4 linked regions of the Homo sapiens genome follow. The protein of the gene in region 1 interacts with the protein of each later gene in a biochemical or structural test. Each region holds a gene or a part of one and is shown on either strand. Other genes may lie near its edges. The genes, in order: GPRASP1, CHRM2, OPRL1 and OPRK1.

Evidence for each region.
Region 2: the proteins of GPRASP1 (region 1) and CHRM2 form a complex in vitro, tested with the Homo sapiens proteins (one study listed by BioGRID and IntAct).
Region 3: the proteins of GPRASP1 (region 1) and OPRL1 form a complex in vitro, tested with the Homo sapiens proteins (one study listed by BioGRID and IntAct).
Region 4: the proteins of GPRASP1 (region 1) and OPRK1 form a complex in vitro, tested with the Homo sapiens proteins (one study listed by BioGRID and IntAct).

The regions. Positions count from the first base shown.
Region 1 is NC_000023.11:102,654,294-102,657,032, reverse strand, and holds part of GPRASP1 (G-protein coupled receptor-associated sorting protein 1), read right to left. Parts: coding exon 1-2,739. UniProt on the Homo sapiens protein: Modulates lysosomal sorting and functional down-regulation of a variety of G-protein coupled receptors. Targets receptors for degradation in lysosomes via its interaction with BECN2.
Region 2 is NC_000007.14:137,011,499-137,015,459, reverse strand, and holds part of CHRM2 (muscarinic acetylcholine receptor M2), read right to left. Parts: intron 641-3,961; 5' UTR 595-640; coding exon 1-594. UniProt on the Homo sapiens protein: The muscarinic acetylcholine receptor mediates various cellular responses, including inhibition of adenylate cyclase, breakdown of phosphoinositides and modulation of potassium channels through the action of G proteins.
Region 3 is NC_000020.11:64,096,741-64,101,253, forward strand, and holds the end of OPRL1 (nociceptin receptor), read left to right. Parts: intron 1-1,061; coding exon 1,062-1,417; intron 1,418-1,535; coding exon 1,536-2,059; coding exon of another isoform or gene 2,060-2,146; 3' UTR 2,147-3,893; downstream 3,894-4,513.
Region 4 is NC_000008.11:53,248,486-53,253,005, reverse strand, and holds the start of OPRK1 (kappa-type opioid receptor), read left to right. Parts: upstream 1-1,368; 5' UTR 1,369-1,558; intron 1,559-1,920; 5' UTR 1,921-1,968; coding exon 1,969-2,225; intron 2,226-4,520. UniProt on the Homo sapiens protein: G-protein coupled opioid receptor that functions as a receptor for endogenous alpha-neoendorphins and dynorphins, but has low affinity for beta-endorphins.

The sequences.
Region 1 (2,739 bases):
CGTGAAGGATCAGGCTCCTGTTCAACTGAACACGTGGACCTGCAAATGGCCCTGAACACGGGGCTAGGATTTGATTCAAAATGGGCCTCATCTCCTGCCCAGAACCAGGACCCCACTATGGCCTCATCTTCATCAGCTAATGTCCTGGACCCACAGTTGCTTCCATTGTCAGTCCTGTTATCTACCTCATCTTCAGCCTCAAACCAAGACCCAACAATGGCCCCTTCCTCATTTTCTGGCTTGGACTCACAGGTGGCCACAGTTCCAGTTTCCTTAATGGCTTTGTCTCTAGACCAGAACCAGGACTCAACAATCATCTCTTCATCATCCTCTGGCTTGGATACACAGCATGGTCCTGCTTCTTCACTGACTTCTTTTCCATCCCAGAACCAGGACCCAAAAATGGTTTCCTCTTCAGTCTCTGACTCCATTTCCTCTACTGCCTGAGATCCAGCCTGTATACTGGCTTCTTCTTCAGGCCAGAACCAGGACCCAACAGTGATTTCTTCCTCCTCAGTCCCAGGCTTTGACTCAAAGCCGACTCCTGCCACTGCCTCCGGACTGGCCTCTTCTTCCCAGAACCAGGACCCAATAATGACTTCTTCCTCTTCAGCTTTAGGACTGGATTTGCTGCAAGACCCAGCCTCTCTTCTAATGGTCTCTTCTCTGGCCCCAAACCAGGACCCAACAATACCTTCTTTCTCAGCTGCTAGCCTGTCTTCTTCTCTAGTCTCAGCAGCTGGCTCTAGTCTGTCCTCTTCTCCAGCCCAGAACCAAGAACCAATAATGTCCCCCTCCTCAGCTTCTGGCCTGGACTCTTCTCTGTCAGTAGCCTCTGAAATGGCTTCATCTTCTTTCCAGAACCAGGAATTGATTATGGTCTCCTCTTCAGTCAGTAACTTGGCCTTTTCTCCAGTCCCATCTATATTACTCTCTTCTGTAGCCCATAACCAGGACCCTATAATGGCCTCTGGCTTTGTGTATTTTCTGGACCAGAACCACGAATTGACAATGTCCTCTTCCTCCTCTGGCCTAGACTTCCAACTTCCTCCACCGGCAGGATACATACAGGGTTCTTTTTCTGCCCAGAAGCAAGACTTATTATTGGTCTCCTCAGCCCCTGCCATAAATCTGCATCTGACACCAGTCCCATGCTTCATACTGACCTCTTCTTTGGCTCCAAAACATGGTATCATGGCCTCTTCCTTGTCCTCCAGGCTAGACTTGCTGTTGACATCACCCTCCACACAAGCTTCTACTCTGGTCCAAAACCAGGACCCAATAATGGGCTCCTCCTCCTCAGCCCCTTGCATGGTGTCACAGCTAGTTTCAGCCCTACAATCCATATAGGTCTGGTTTTCAGCCCAAAACCAGGACCCGAATATTGTCTCTTCTTCAGCTCCTGGCCTGGCCTCTTCTCCGATTCCAGCCTCTATATCAACTTGTTCTCCAGACCAAAACCAGGGACCAATGACCTCTTCTTCCTCAGACCTTGTCCTGGACTCACAGCTGACCCCAACACCAGATTCCACACTGGCCGCATCAATGACCCAGAACCACGACCCAAAAATGGTCTCTTCCTCAGCCTCTTGGTTGACCTCTTCACCAGCCCAGAACCAGGAACCAATAATGACCTGTTCATCATCAGCTGCTAGTATAGATTCAGAGGTGGCCTCAGCCCCAGTTTTCATACTGGTCTTTTCCCTAGCCCCAAATAAGGAATCACCAATACGCTCCCCATCAGTCCTTGGTCTGGATTTACTGCTAGCCCCAGTCCCCATACTGGCCTCTTCTTCAGTCCAGAACCAACTCCCAATTATGGACTCATCCTCCACTTGTAGACTGGACTCTATGCTGGCTTCATCTGCCATGCTGGACTCGTCTGTAGCCCAGAACCAGGTCCCAATGAGGGCTTCCTCCTCTGACCTGGCTTCTTGCTTGGCCCTGGCTCGGGCCTTGGTTTTGGCCTCTTCCTTTGTCATTGCTCTGGCCCTGGCCTCTTTCTTGATCATGGGCCTTGAAAAGGTATTAGCATTTTCTTCAGGCCAGAAACAGGACTCTTTTTTAATTACATCTATAGACCCAGGCATGAAATCAATGCAAGCTTCTCGCTTGGCCCTGTGCCTGGCCCTGTTATTGGCCTCCTTCCCAGCTCTCATTTTGGACCTGAATTTGGCCTCCTTTCCAGCCCCAAACCAGGACTCCAAATGGTCTTCATGCTCAGATCCAGAACTTGATTCAACATAGACTTCTTTCTTAGACCTAAACCTGGACCTGCTATTGGGATCTTCCCTGGGCCCAGACCAGGTATTGGTTTTATCTCTGGCCCAGAACCAGGGTGTCTTAACAGACTCATCCTCAGAACCAGAACTAGATGCAATATAGAGCTCCTGGTTAGTTTGGGACCTAGACATGGTATTAGCCTCTTGATTGGCCATGTGCATGGATCTGTTACTGTCTTTTACCCTATTCCCAGGATGAAATTTTGCAGTGACCTCATCTCCACTCCAGAACAAGGAACTCACAGATTTGTCTACCCATTTGAAATCAGAATTAGGAGAGGCTTCTTGTTTGGATGTAGGCCTAGGACAGCACCAGGACCCCATATTGGTCTCCTCCTTTGACCTAAAAGAAGGCTGGAATCCTGCTTGGTAATGGGCCTTCCTTCTAGGAAAGCTCTCAGTGTCTGTATTAACCAGTTCTCTATCCTCAGACAGGTACTTTGTTTTAGCAACCAAG
Region 2 (3,961 bases), on another chromosome or scaffold:
TGGCAAATAGAAGGCTGCAATAGCCGTACCAAAGGTGACAGCAGCATTGGAAAAAAACTGAATGTAGCACTCCCCATCCTCCACAGTTCTCACCCCTACAATGAACTGCCAGAAGAGAATGGCTGGAGCCCAGAGGATGAAAGAGAGGACCCAGGCAGCTGCAATCATCATACCTGCCATTTTTGTGGTCCGCTTGACTGGGTAGGTCAGAGGTTTTGTGACACAGAAGTACCTGTCAAAGCTGATGATGAGCAGATTCATAACTGAGGCATTGCTGACCACATAGTCCAGGGCTAGCCAAAGGTCACACACCACAGGTCCCAAAGGCCAGTAACCAATCACAGTGTAGAGGGTGTACAAGTTCATGGAGAAAACACCTATGATAAGGTCAGCACAGGCCAAGCTGAATAAAAAGTAATTGTTGACGGTCTGGAGGTGGCGGTTGACTTTAATGGAAACCATGACTAGGATGTTCCCGATAATGGTCACCAAACTGAGGGATCCAGCCACCAGGACAATAAACACCACTTCAAATGTCTTATAAGGACTTGTAAGAGCCAGGCTATTGTTAGAGGAGTTTGTTGAGTTATTCATTTTGCGTTCTCTAATCAGTAGCCAAGTAGCAAATAAACATTTAAACCTGCAAGGAAATAGAATAAAATTAACAAACATAATATAAACATTGGTTTAAAATACATAATGTTGTTTCTCCTTTTAAACCACATTATTTTCTCCCAAATCTCCCTTCCCCTGCATGATTACTGTGTCTACCTGCCTCAATTCCCCATGTAAAAAGCAAGACCTTCAAATGGAGGATTCAAAAGGACCTTTCAGGCTGGCAATGAACTTGAAGTCCAGTAATGTTTTAAATATGTCCTTATCCAGATATGAGTATCTATCTACCTACCTATCTACCTATATATCTCATCAATCCATGAAACTTAGCATAATACTGATAAATTGAATTAAATAAACCAAAATTACAAACAACACTTTCTAAAACATCAAGGGATTCCTGGAATAGACATAAAAATTAGTAAATTAGTGAGAGGACACAATTATAGAAGAAAGCATAGAATGTATAATATTGAATGTGTGACTTTTATAGTTAACAGTGCCTTTCCTCATGGAAGCTCTAAGCCTTTTTCACAATAACACTGAGGATGGTGAAAATAAAGATAATATAATAATACTTAATAGCCAGTATACTCTCCCTAGATGAGAATTATTTTCCTCTTGCCTCTATTTTATTTCATACTTGTAATCAGTATTACATAATCAGCATTTCCAATATTCCATATCTTACACAAGAATATTTGCTTATTAAATGCATATTGAACTGAAAAAGCCAAAATTATGCATAAGACTTTCCAAAGCATAAAGAGATTTCTGGAATAGACATACAAATTAATACATCAATAAGAAGACAAAATTATGGGAGAAAATACCACTTTTCTGAATGTTTTGTTTTTCAAACCACTATCAAATCTATTATCTTACTATTCTTTCTGCCAAACTTTTTGTTTTGTAGAAGGAACTAAGGCTCAGAAAGATGAAATCCCAGTTTGTTCAGTCATTCATTCTTTCACTTTGTGCTCACATATCTATTGAGCAGCTTCTCTTAATTAGGTGTTCTGGACGTTCAATGATGATTAAAACAAGGTCTCTGCCTGGTGGCAGACATGGGTTGATGAAGAAGCAATTATTAAACCTGAATGCACTTCTTGTTTCCCTATCCTGTTGTGTGTAAGTAAACACATAATCATCATTTTTGAGATAATATCATTGAAGTCTGATGACAATTGAGTGATCTTTCATAATGGAAAATGTATATTGGGGATTTAGAAAAGAAAGTTAAGAATTCATCAAAGAGATATGACACATTTCTGGAGAAACAGCATCTGAAGCAGAAACTAGCCCAAGTTCCACCTCTTTTTGAAAAAATTGCTGTGAGCTGTCAGAAAATAAGCATTGCTGAGAAATTAAAATTTGGGAATATTGATTAGTTTGGATGCTATTAATTACAAAGAAATGGGCAGTGGTTTGCCCTTGAAATCCATGTAGAAAATAATTTGGTAAGCAACTTCATAACACAAATAACATTTAAAAAAATAATTTTTTCTGCTTTGGAAAGTCAATTGTTTTCCAGTATTTTATTTGACAAAACCCAAATAATGGGATTTGGCCTTAATATAATAAGACCCAAAATTCAGAAGCCAGAAAGGAAAATATATGTAACTGTTGCATATTCCTTTAAAATTTTTGCATAGAGCAAAAAAGTCAAAATAACAATTGAGAAACAATATTTGTAAATTGCACGATAGAAAATTATCCAATGTCTTTAATATAATAGAGTTTTGGCAAAAAAGGAAAGATGAAAGATGAATAATCTAAAACATTGATGTAGTAGTTCAATCAAAGAAAAATTAGACATTAATGACTTTTAAACATATGAAATGATACTCAACCCCACAGTTTAAAGATGCAAATCCAGACAGTGAAAAACAATTTTCCATCCGTAGTATTAATGGTAGTGTTGAATACTTTTGGTGGGACTAGCGGGATAATCACCACGAAGGATAATGTATCTATATCTATAGAACTTTAAATCTGTATCTATAAAAATGTATTAAGAAACACTTGTCTCAGGAATGCCACATTTAGGAATGTGTCTTTCAGATAGAGTCATAAAAATGTACAAAGAGGTCTACTCAAGTATGTTCACTCAGAAATGTTGTTATAGCAAAAAAATCCCGAGATATATTAAAACTATTCATTGACAAGGGATTGGTTAAATATATTATGGAATACTCTTACAATGGAATATTATGCGGCTAGTAAAACAGGTAGATATTTGTGTCCTGGCATTGCTGTGGAAAGTTATATAGTTAGAAGATGACATAATCATAGTGAGACATAGATTATTACAGAATATAATTTTATTTAAGCAAAAAGGTGATTATATGTAATATTACATATGTATGCCTGCAGCTCATTGGGAAATATTGAAGAGTTTAATCAGGGAAATGATGTTAATGGAATGCAACTTAGATCAGTTGAATTATTTTAATCGGATTTCCCTTTGACAATCCTTTTTTGCAATTAATCATACAATTGTATATTCATGGTAATTTATTTGAACAAAAACATTTTATTATCCCAGTTCTTATTCCAACAATTTCTTAATAGCTCAGCTAACTGTAAGATCAGAATTGTGACTTGCTTATAAGCAGCATTTTCTCTGTTTATTAGATAAATTCATGGACAGTTTGGAGTTGAGCTATATGTGTATCTGTTTCATGAAATGTTAATATTAATTCACTTAGTTTGAAAAATACAAAAAATGAATGTATTGACTCTGCATTTTAATTATTCATAATTTTGATAAAGCATAGGACTTATATTCTAGTTTTTAAAAGATTTTTGATAATTTCCTCTGGAGAATAATGAATAACACTGATGTTGAAAAGTAGGGATTCAAAATCAACTAGTTTGATGAGGATCTAAATTGCTAAGGTCCAAAATCCCCAAAATTACAATCCTGAAAGATTAAAATTCTGAATGTTGAAATCCTGAAAGCTGAATTCTGGAAAAGGGGTTGGCATTTCACTTGCATGCAGGATGGTCTCATCACATTGGCCTGCATCATGTTAGGTGGAACCATCACCTTGTTACTGCTTTTATTTGGAAATAACATATAGTTTGAGGAGATGTATATGAACACTAGGCTGACAAGTGGTGGACTTGTGAACTTAATTTTAGGTGTCAACTTGGCAGAATTAAGGAATACCTAGAAACCTGATAAAATATTAATTCGGATGTGTCTGTGAGGGTGTTTCCAGAGGCAATTCGTGTTTGAGTGTGAATGGACTAGATGGGGAATTTTGCCCTCAGTGTTGGAGTGCATCATCCAATTGGCCAGAGCCCAGTGAGAACAATTTCAGAAGGTGACTTGATCTGT
Region 3 (4,513 bases), on another chromosome or scaffold:
CATCACCACTATCACCACCACCAGCACCTTCATTATCACATTCACCATCCTCACCATCCTCACCACCACCATCACCACCATCATCACCATCATCATCATGACCATCACCACCATCACCACTATCACCACCACCACCATCATTACCATCATCATCACGACCATCACCACCATCATCACCATCACCACTATCACCACCACCACCATCATTACCATCATCATCACGACCATCACCACCATCATCACCATCACCACTATCACCACCACCACCATCATCACCATCACCATCATCACAGTCATCACCATCATCACCATCATCATCATCACCACTACCATCACGCTCACAGTCATCACCATCACCACCATGATCACTGCCATCATCACCACCACCATCACCACCATAATCCCCCCCAACTATTACAACCATTAACTTATTTAACAAAAATTTATTAATCACCAACGATTTTCCCAGCCCTTTCCAGCACCATTTCAGGTGCTTGGATACACTCATACCTTATTAGCATCCCTCCTGTCCCCCCGTCACCATTTTCGGTCTCCATTGCTAGGCAGCAGTGTGGACTTGGAAGCCTTTTGATATGTTCTTACAGATTCTGGAGCCCTCAGAAACCTCTGGCAACTGTAGGGTCAGCATTTGAGTCTGTGAGGGGTCATGGAGGGGACTCAAAAGCAAGGGGAGCAGACTCTTTCCCTTAGGGCTCTAAACCTTTGCTCCTGTGCAGAATCCGGGGTGTGTTCTGGTAGCCTACATGCCCTGACTCCTCTAAAGTAGACCTGTGTTTAAGGCTTGGAATCCTTCTGTGTGTGTCAGAGTCACTTGAGGAGCTGGTTAAGACGTTTGACCCCAGGCCCTACCCCCTGAGACTGACTCATGAGTCTCAGGTTGGGTCCAGGAGCTATCACTTACCAAGCCCCCATGGGAACTCTGATGTTAAGGGACTCAGGGCCACTGTAGCTTGTGGTGGCCAAGAGGAGCCCCTTGCCCTTTGCTGCCTGGTCCAGCCAGCATGGCCAAGTGAAGCCTTTCTTCTCCCTCTACTCCGCAGGCACACCAAAATGAAGACAGCCACCAATATTTACATCTTTAACCTGGCCCTGGCCGACACTCTGGTCCTGCTGACGCTGCCCTTCCAGGGCACGGACATCCTCCTGGGCTTCTGGCCGTTTGGGAATGCGCTGTGCAAGACAGTCATTGCCATTGACTACTACAACATGTTCACCAGCACCTTCACCCTAACTGCCATGAGTGTGGATCGCTATGTAGCCATCTGCCACCCCATCCGTGCCCTCGACGTCCGCACGTCCAGCAAAGCCCAGGCTGTCAATGTGGCCATCTGGGCCCTGGCCTCTGTTGTCGGTGTTCCCGTTGCCATCATGGGCTCGGCACAGGTCGAGGATGAAGGTCAGTGGGGTGTCCCCTCCTCCCCTCACCAGGCTCCCTGGCTCCCGGGTGGCTCCTCTGGGCCCACGTGCCCTCCACGTCTCCTGGGCCCACTCTGACCCCGTTTCTCTCCCTGCAGAGATCGAGTGCCTGGTGGAGATCCCTACCCCTCAGGATTACTGGGGCCCGGTGTTTGCCATCTGCATCTTCCTCTTCTCCTTCATCGTCCCCGTGCTCGTCATCTCTGTCTGCTACAGCCTCATGATCCGGCGGCTCCGTGGAGTCCGCCTGCTCTCGGGCTCCCGAGAGAAGGACCGGAACCTGCGGCGCATCACTCGGCTGGTGCTGGTGGTAGTGGCTGTGTTCGTGGGCTGCTGGACGCCTGTCCAGGTCTTCGTGCTGGCCCAAGGGCTGGGGGTTCAGCCGAGCAGCGAGACTGCCGTGGCCATTCTGCGCTTCTGCACGGCCCTGGGCTACGTCAACAGCTGCCTCAACCCCATCCTCTACGCCTTCCTGGATGAGAACTTCAAGGCCTGCTTCCGCAAGTTCTGCTGTGCATCTGCCCTGCGCCGGGACGTGCAGGTGTCTGACCGCGTGCGCAGCATTGCCAAGGACGTGGCCCTGGCCTGCAAGACCTCTGAGACGGTACCGCGGCCCGCATGACTAGGCGTGGACCTGCCCATGGTGCCTGTCAGCCCGCAGAGCCCATCTACGCCCAACACAGAGCTCACACAGGTCACTGCTCTCTAGGCGGACACACCCTGGGCCCTGAGCATCCAGAGCCTGGGATGGGCTTTTCCCTGTGGGCCAGGGATGCTCGGTCCCAGAGGAGGACCTAGTGACATCATGGGACAGGTCAAAGCATTAGGGCCACCTCCATGGCCCCAGACAGACTAAAGCTGCCCTCCTGGTGCAGGGCCGAGGGGACACAAGGACCTACCTGGAAGCAGCTGACATGCTGGTGGACGGCCGTGACTGGAGCCCGTGCCCCTCCCTCCCCGTGCTTCATGTGACTCTTGGCCTCTCTGCTGCTGCGTTGGCAGAACCCTGGGTGGGCAGGCACCCGGAGGAGGAGCAGCAGCTGTGTCATCCTGTGCCCCCCATGTGCTGTGTGCTGTTTGCATGGCAGGGCTCCAGCTGCCTTCAGCCCTGTGACGTCTCCTCAGGGCAGCTGGACAGGCTTGGCACTGCCCGGGAAGTGCAGCAGGCAGCTTTTCTTTGGGGTGGGACTTGCCCTGAGCTTGGAGCTGCCACCTGGAGGACTTGCCTGTTCCGACTCCACCTGTGCAGCCGGGGCCACCCCAGGAGAAAGTGTCCAGGTGGGGGCTGGCAGTCCCTGGCTGCAGACCCCGAGCTGGCCCTGGGCCAGCCGCACCTCTGAAGGTTTTCTGTGTGCTGCACGGTGCAGGCCTCATCCCTGACTGCAGCTTGACTCTGGGCCCAACCCCCATTTCCCTTCAGGAGACCAGCGAGAGGCCCTGGCCCATTCCCTCCAGCGGTGCAATGAACTATCATGCTGTGGACCGTCAACCCAGCCCTGCTTCTCAGTGTGGGGCAGGTGTCTCAGGACGAAGGCGCCGCGTGACCACATGGGCAGCTCTGTTCACAAAGTGGAGGCCTCGTTTTCCTGGTCTTGACTGCTCTGTTTGGGTGGGAGAAGATTCTCTGGGGGTCCCCACATCCTCCCAAGGCTCCCCTCACAGCCTCTCCTTTGCTTGAAGCCAGAGGTCAGTGGCCGTGCTGTGTTGCGGGGGAAGCTGTGTGGAAGGAGAAGCTGGTGGCCACAGCAGAGTCCTGCTCTGGGGACGCCTGCTTCATTTACAAGCCTCAAGATGGCTCTGTGTAGGGCCTGAGCTTGCTGCCCAACGGGAGGATGGCTTCACAGCAGAGCCAGCATGAGGGGTGGGGCCTGGCAGGGCTTGCTTGAGCCAAACTGCAAAGGCTGTGGTGGCTGTGAGGACACTGCGGGGGTTGGGGGGGGGGCGTCTGTACCTCAGGGGATGCCCCGCTGTGGTCACCCAGAGAATCACCCTTCCTGGTCTACAGATGGAAGCTGCAGGTTGGTGACTTTGCAAATGCACTTCCTACAGATGAACTATTAAAAGACCTGCAACATTGAAAAAACTCATTTTTTCCACCAAAACCTTGGCCAGGTAACCTACCTTAGGCACCTGCAAAGAACAGGAAGTGATGGCTGTCTCGCAACAGAGCCTGGGCTGCTCCTCCTGCTCTGGGGAGTCTAGGCCGTGGGGACTGTTCTGGGGAGGCTCATGCTGTCTCCATGACGTCTGTGGCAGGAGTCCCTGAGGACGGGAGCTGCCTAGCTACAGTTTTCTTGCCAAGGCGAGGTGTTTTGTGAATCTGTGCTGATGTAATGTGCACCTTCACGTATTTATGCATGTGGCAAGCGTTACTTCCTGTGCACGTAGCCAGCCCTGGGTCTGTCTCTGGGGTAATGAAAAAGGACCCTAATAAACACCTGCTCACTGGCTGGGTATTCTTTGTAACCAGTGTTTCTGGCTCCTGCCACCTGGGGATTTGCTTCTGGAGTGACTTTTCTGGGATTGGCACGTGGGTGGGAGGAGGCTATGGGTTTAGGCTGAATTCTTGTACCTGTCCTGTGCTGCTCAACAGGCTGGGCTCTGCCCTCAGTGAAACGTCCCCCAGGAGGCTGCAACCCTGGGGAGAGTTGAAGCCAGTTAATGGTGTGTTGGCCGGGCTGTTACCTTTTCTTCAGCACACACGGTTTCTCTCTAAACAACCGATGGCTGCACCTCTCCCCTGCCCCCTGGAAAGAGAGGTTTCCTGAGGATACAGTGGGAGGGTGCTGCTCCCACCCAGGTTGCAGGGTTTTCTTACCCCCATTTCATCTCAGAAGAACCCCTGCTCCTGCTCATTTCCCCTTCCTTGAGCAGATCTGAGGGGAGTTTTGGTGAAGGATGAGCAGACGGCCTCCTCTAGGGCTGGGTACACTCTTGCCATGGACATCTGCCTCCTGGTTCCTGTTTGGCCCAGTTCAGCCCAGGCCGACCTGCAAAACAGAGCAGCTTTGGAGGGTGGGCACGGGCACACTCCAGTCCAAGTACTCGTCTCCAGGGCATGGGCAGATGGGCAAGT
Region 4 (4,520 bases), on another chromosome or scaffold:
CAGCAGGTCTGATGTGTTACTGAAGGAGATGTGATCCTTCAATGACAGTTTGCAATCAGACTTAAAAGAACTCTAAGACTTGATAATAATTTTCAAAATTATTTGAAAGGGTTGAAGGGATATGGTTGAACAAAGGGAAGATTTCCTTATGCTCTTCATATTACACTGCTCAAAAGAGTTGTTCATCTCCAGGCGGCAAGACGCTGGTGGTCAAATCCCACTTTGGGGTCATGGCGTCTTGAAAGAGACAGGAACCCCCTTCTGCCCTCCGCTGATGGAGGGAAGGGCTGTATCAGTCATTAGTGTGTCCAGGTGTGGCATGGACATTAGCTGTGGGATGCAGTGGGGACCTGTGTTTGTCAGCCTGAGGCAGTGAATCCACTGGGGAAATTGAGGTGCCTAAACCCCCAGTCTCCCCCAGGCCTGTCTCCAGTACCCTGTGGAGAAGGGGAACTTCCCCACTCCCTTTCAGAACCTTCACCTCAGGGGCTGAGCCCTTGCTCCCTTTGTGTCTTGCCGGTCCCTTTGCCTGAGAAGAGAATGTCTCTCACTCAGCAGGATCTGACAGCTACCCTTGGACTAGCAGAGTTTTGCAAAGAAATGATGGTGACAGTTTATTTACGGACGCTCAGATTCGCGGCCGTATAATGGAGGCAGCCCTACTGTGAGGGAGAAGTGAGGAGAACGTGATGGCTGCAGGGATTAATGTAAAACAGAGACACTGTCACCTCCCTGGAGCACCACTGAGGCCCGGGTAAGGAGAGTGTTTTGCCCTTCTCAGATACTATCAGCAATTCAGGTAATACCCGTAAGGTGCAGTTTGTCTGCAGCCTGTCATCCCAGTTAGAGCAGACGGAATGGAAGAGAACGCAAGGAAATATTCTATTTATGTGTCTTTTAAGTCATTATTTTATGAACTGGTCTTATTCTAACTGGATCATTTTGTTACTTTCTTTGGATGGGCCATTCTAATAAGCGTAGTTCCTGACTGCGAACTATGCAGATAAGAAGTTCTAGACACAATATGAAAATCCAGGTGCATACTTGCACTAAATAGGCATGCTCCTCCTTTTTACTAAATCTAAATGGCTCAGTCTCAGGTCTTGGGGAAGGCTGCATGGCCGGGGACCAGGCGGTGTGCCGCTCGGGCAGTTAGTGGGCCGGGCGAGCCTGCGGGGCTGGAGGGGACGCGGGGCTGGGAGGCTGGGGAGCTGGGGGCTGACTCCGGGCGGGCGGGGCGGGGCAGGGACCTGCCGGCCTGGGGCGGGCGCACCAGACGAGCTCTCCGCCCGCAGGCCCCCAGCGCCCAGCCGCGTCCCGGCTGCGTCCCGCCGGTCCCGCCCCGCCCCGCCCCGCAGAGCCGCCGCCAGTAGTGGGAGACGTGCGCTGAGAGGCGGGGGCTGCGCTCGGCGGAACAGCAGCCCTCGGGCGGAGAGCGGGGCCGGGGTCCGAGAGCAGGTGATGCCAAGAGCTGAGCGGGACTCGTGAGCGCGCGGTTCAGCACCTACCAGGGCGTCCCGTAAAAAACCTCGCCTTCGCCTGTCTCTGGGAACCATAGGTAAGCTTTGGGCTTTCGAGGTGCAGTTCTAGGTAGAGCTCCGTGCTGGGAGGTGGGAAGGGGGCTTGACCCTGGGGACTCAGGCAGTCTGGGGACAGTTCCACCAGGGGCCGGTGCCTAGAATTGGTGAGGGAGGCACCTCAGGGGCTGGGGGAGAAGGAGCGAGCGCTCTTCGCCCCTCTCTGGCACCCAGCGGCGCGCCTGCTGGCCGGAAAGGCAGCGAGAAGTCCGTTCTCCCTGTCCTGCCCCCGGCGACTTGCGGCCCGGGTGGGAGTCCGCAGGCTCCGGGTCCCCAGCGCCGCTGGCCAGGGCGCGGGCAAAGTTTGCCTCTCCGCGTCCAGCCGGTTCTTTCGCTCCCGCAGCGCCGCAGGTGCCGCCTGTCCTCGCCTTCCTGCTGCAATCGCCCCACCATGGACTCCCCGATCCAGATCTTCCGCGGGGAGCCGGGCCCTACCTGCGCCCCGAGCGCCTGCCTGCCCCCCAACAGCAGCGCCTGGTTTCCCGGCTGGGCCGAGCCCGACAGCAACGGCAGCGCCGGCTCGGAGGACGCGCAGCTGGAGCCCGCGCACATCTCCCCGGCCATCCCGGTCATCATCACGGCGGTCTACTCCGTAGTGTTCGTCGTGGGCTTGGTGGGCAACTCGCTGGTCATGTTCGTGATCATCCGGTGAGCGCGGGGACAGCGCAGCGCTGGGGGCTGGGCGGGGCAGGGAGTGAGGGTCAGGCCCCGCCACTGGAGCAGCAGTGGGGGCAGCCAGCCAGGTGGTGGGGACTCTGTTCCGTGAAGGATCCTGGAAATGCTACAGGGTGGCTTCCTAGAAGAGGTGAAGGATTTTCTGGGAGTTTTTGGTGGAGTGCTGAGAGGTTCACACAGGCGAATCCGAGCGGCCAGGGGCGTCTGGAAGATTTCAGAGTAACCCCCCGACCCCACCCTAGGGCCCAGTGTTTCTGCTGAAAACTCTATGCGCAGGGCAAGGTGCCAGGGTGCTGACAACAGGGTCAGGGGTTCCTGGTAAAGGAACTAATCCATTTGCCTGCGCCAGTTTGGAGCACTTTGTTATGCCCTTTGCAAATATTTCTTAAGATAAATTTCAAGCCCACCCAATGCACTGAAGATAATTCCGAATTTCCTGGGACTCCTCAGACTGGTGTTTTGGCTTATGAAACAAAACCTGATATATGCTCTAGCGTTGTTGATATGCATATATGAGCCTTTTTAGTATCAAATGGCATCCCATTTGTTAGGAATATCAGTAAATAATATTTATCCTCTAAAACATGGCCTGTGGAGATTTTCAAAAACTACTTCGCTGTTTTTTTCACCATGAGAAATTGAAGGTTTTATTTGTGTGTGTGTGTGTGTGTGTGTGTGTGTGTGGAAATTTCTTCAAGTCAACTTCCAATAATAAGTATCCCAATATCCACATATATGCTAATTTTTTGGTAAGCAAAGTGATTCTGACTTTAAGAAAGAAAAACAAGAAAAGGAAAACCTAACTTTGTTCTGCACTTTTCTTAAGATAGATGTGTTTCCTTTTCTGGGAGCACTAGAGCTTTGTCAACACACCTGTGAGAGGGAGTAGGAAGCTTGTGTTCCTTTGAGAAGTCTCTATGAAATAAGGGCGGGATGCAAGTCACCCTGGCTAGGGACTCTGAAACGATGAATAGCTGATTTTTTTTAAGCTTGATTTTAGTTTTGAAACAGGCCATTTATTTATTATGAACTTTAACAACCATATCATGAATGGTAGCATAAATGTTTCTCTTGGAAAATTATCATAATAAAATACTGCTTTATTTTTATTTTTACTTTTTTGCTTGAGAATGTCAGGTCTTTTATTCCTATGTATGCTCTGACATTAAAAACCATCATTTAAGTCGCCAAACACATATTATAAAGCTCATTTCATCAACAACTAGTGTTTATAGCTTGGTGCCCTTGGTTTTCATAATTGCCTATTGCATTTCGCAGGAATTCTATCCATGATGAGTAAAGGTTATAGAAGGAAGGAATATTTTAAAATTAAATTGTTTGTCCAAGTCATTAGTAATCTCAGGGCTGGCCTCCACTAAAGAGACAATTAGACAAAAGAAAAGACAACTGTATTCTAAATTTTAATTAAAAATTTTAGGAGATCTTTGGTACAGAAGCTATTTATTTGGTGGTGGGGTAATAGAAACATTGTTAAGCAAAAGAAAGCTCTAGGAAAAAAAATAGCTCTGTTTCTACCCATATCATATTTAGGTGCTCAAGTAAAACAGATACATATTGTTATTTGAATGAGCCCCTGAAGTCTGCAGTTTGAAAAGAGCTTTGTAGTTGCTCTACAACCTTTTGCAGACTAGGATTAAAAAGAATGAAGAATCCTAAAATAACATTTAGATGTTATGTGCAAATATAACTCCATGGGGAACATTTGACATGTAAGAAGGAAAAAAAAATCCTGTAGATTAGCTAGGATTTTTAATGGATAGATTTCCCAAATATATCCAACACTAAAGTGTGTTATAAGGGGATAAGTTCAGCTAAAAATATAAAAGAAGTTGGATAGTTCACATACATCATTCTCCATTCTCCCACCTCCCAATACTTAAAGGTTACGTTTGATGATGAATGAAAAGCGAAGAGTTCTACTGCCATCCTGGAGTACCAACCTACTGAAATCTATCTAGTTCACTTATGGCTAGAGCACATACATTTTAAGGTCTTCACAAGTAAAAGGTTAATGTCTAGTGAACCTAGTTCACTCAAGTCTATAGCTAAGAAGGAAAAGGAGTATTTAGTATTATTTCATAATGATAGATGGTTCAAGGATTGAAAAATAAAACCTTTGAAGAAGAATTGATGTACTTGGGTTTATTTATCTTAGGAAATGAAGAGACTGAAGATCAGAGAGAGGGTGGCATGAAGTGGGTTGCGTTGTGATCATCAGGCCTGAGTGCAGAACCAGGGTGTGGAGGC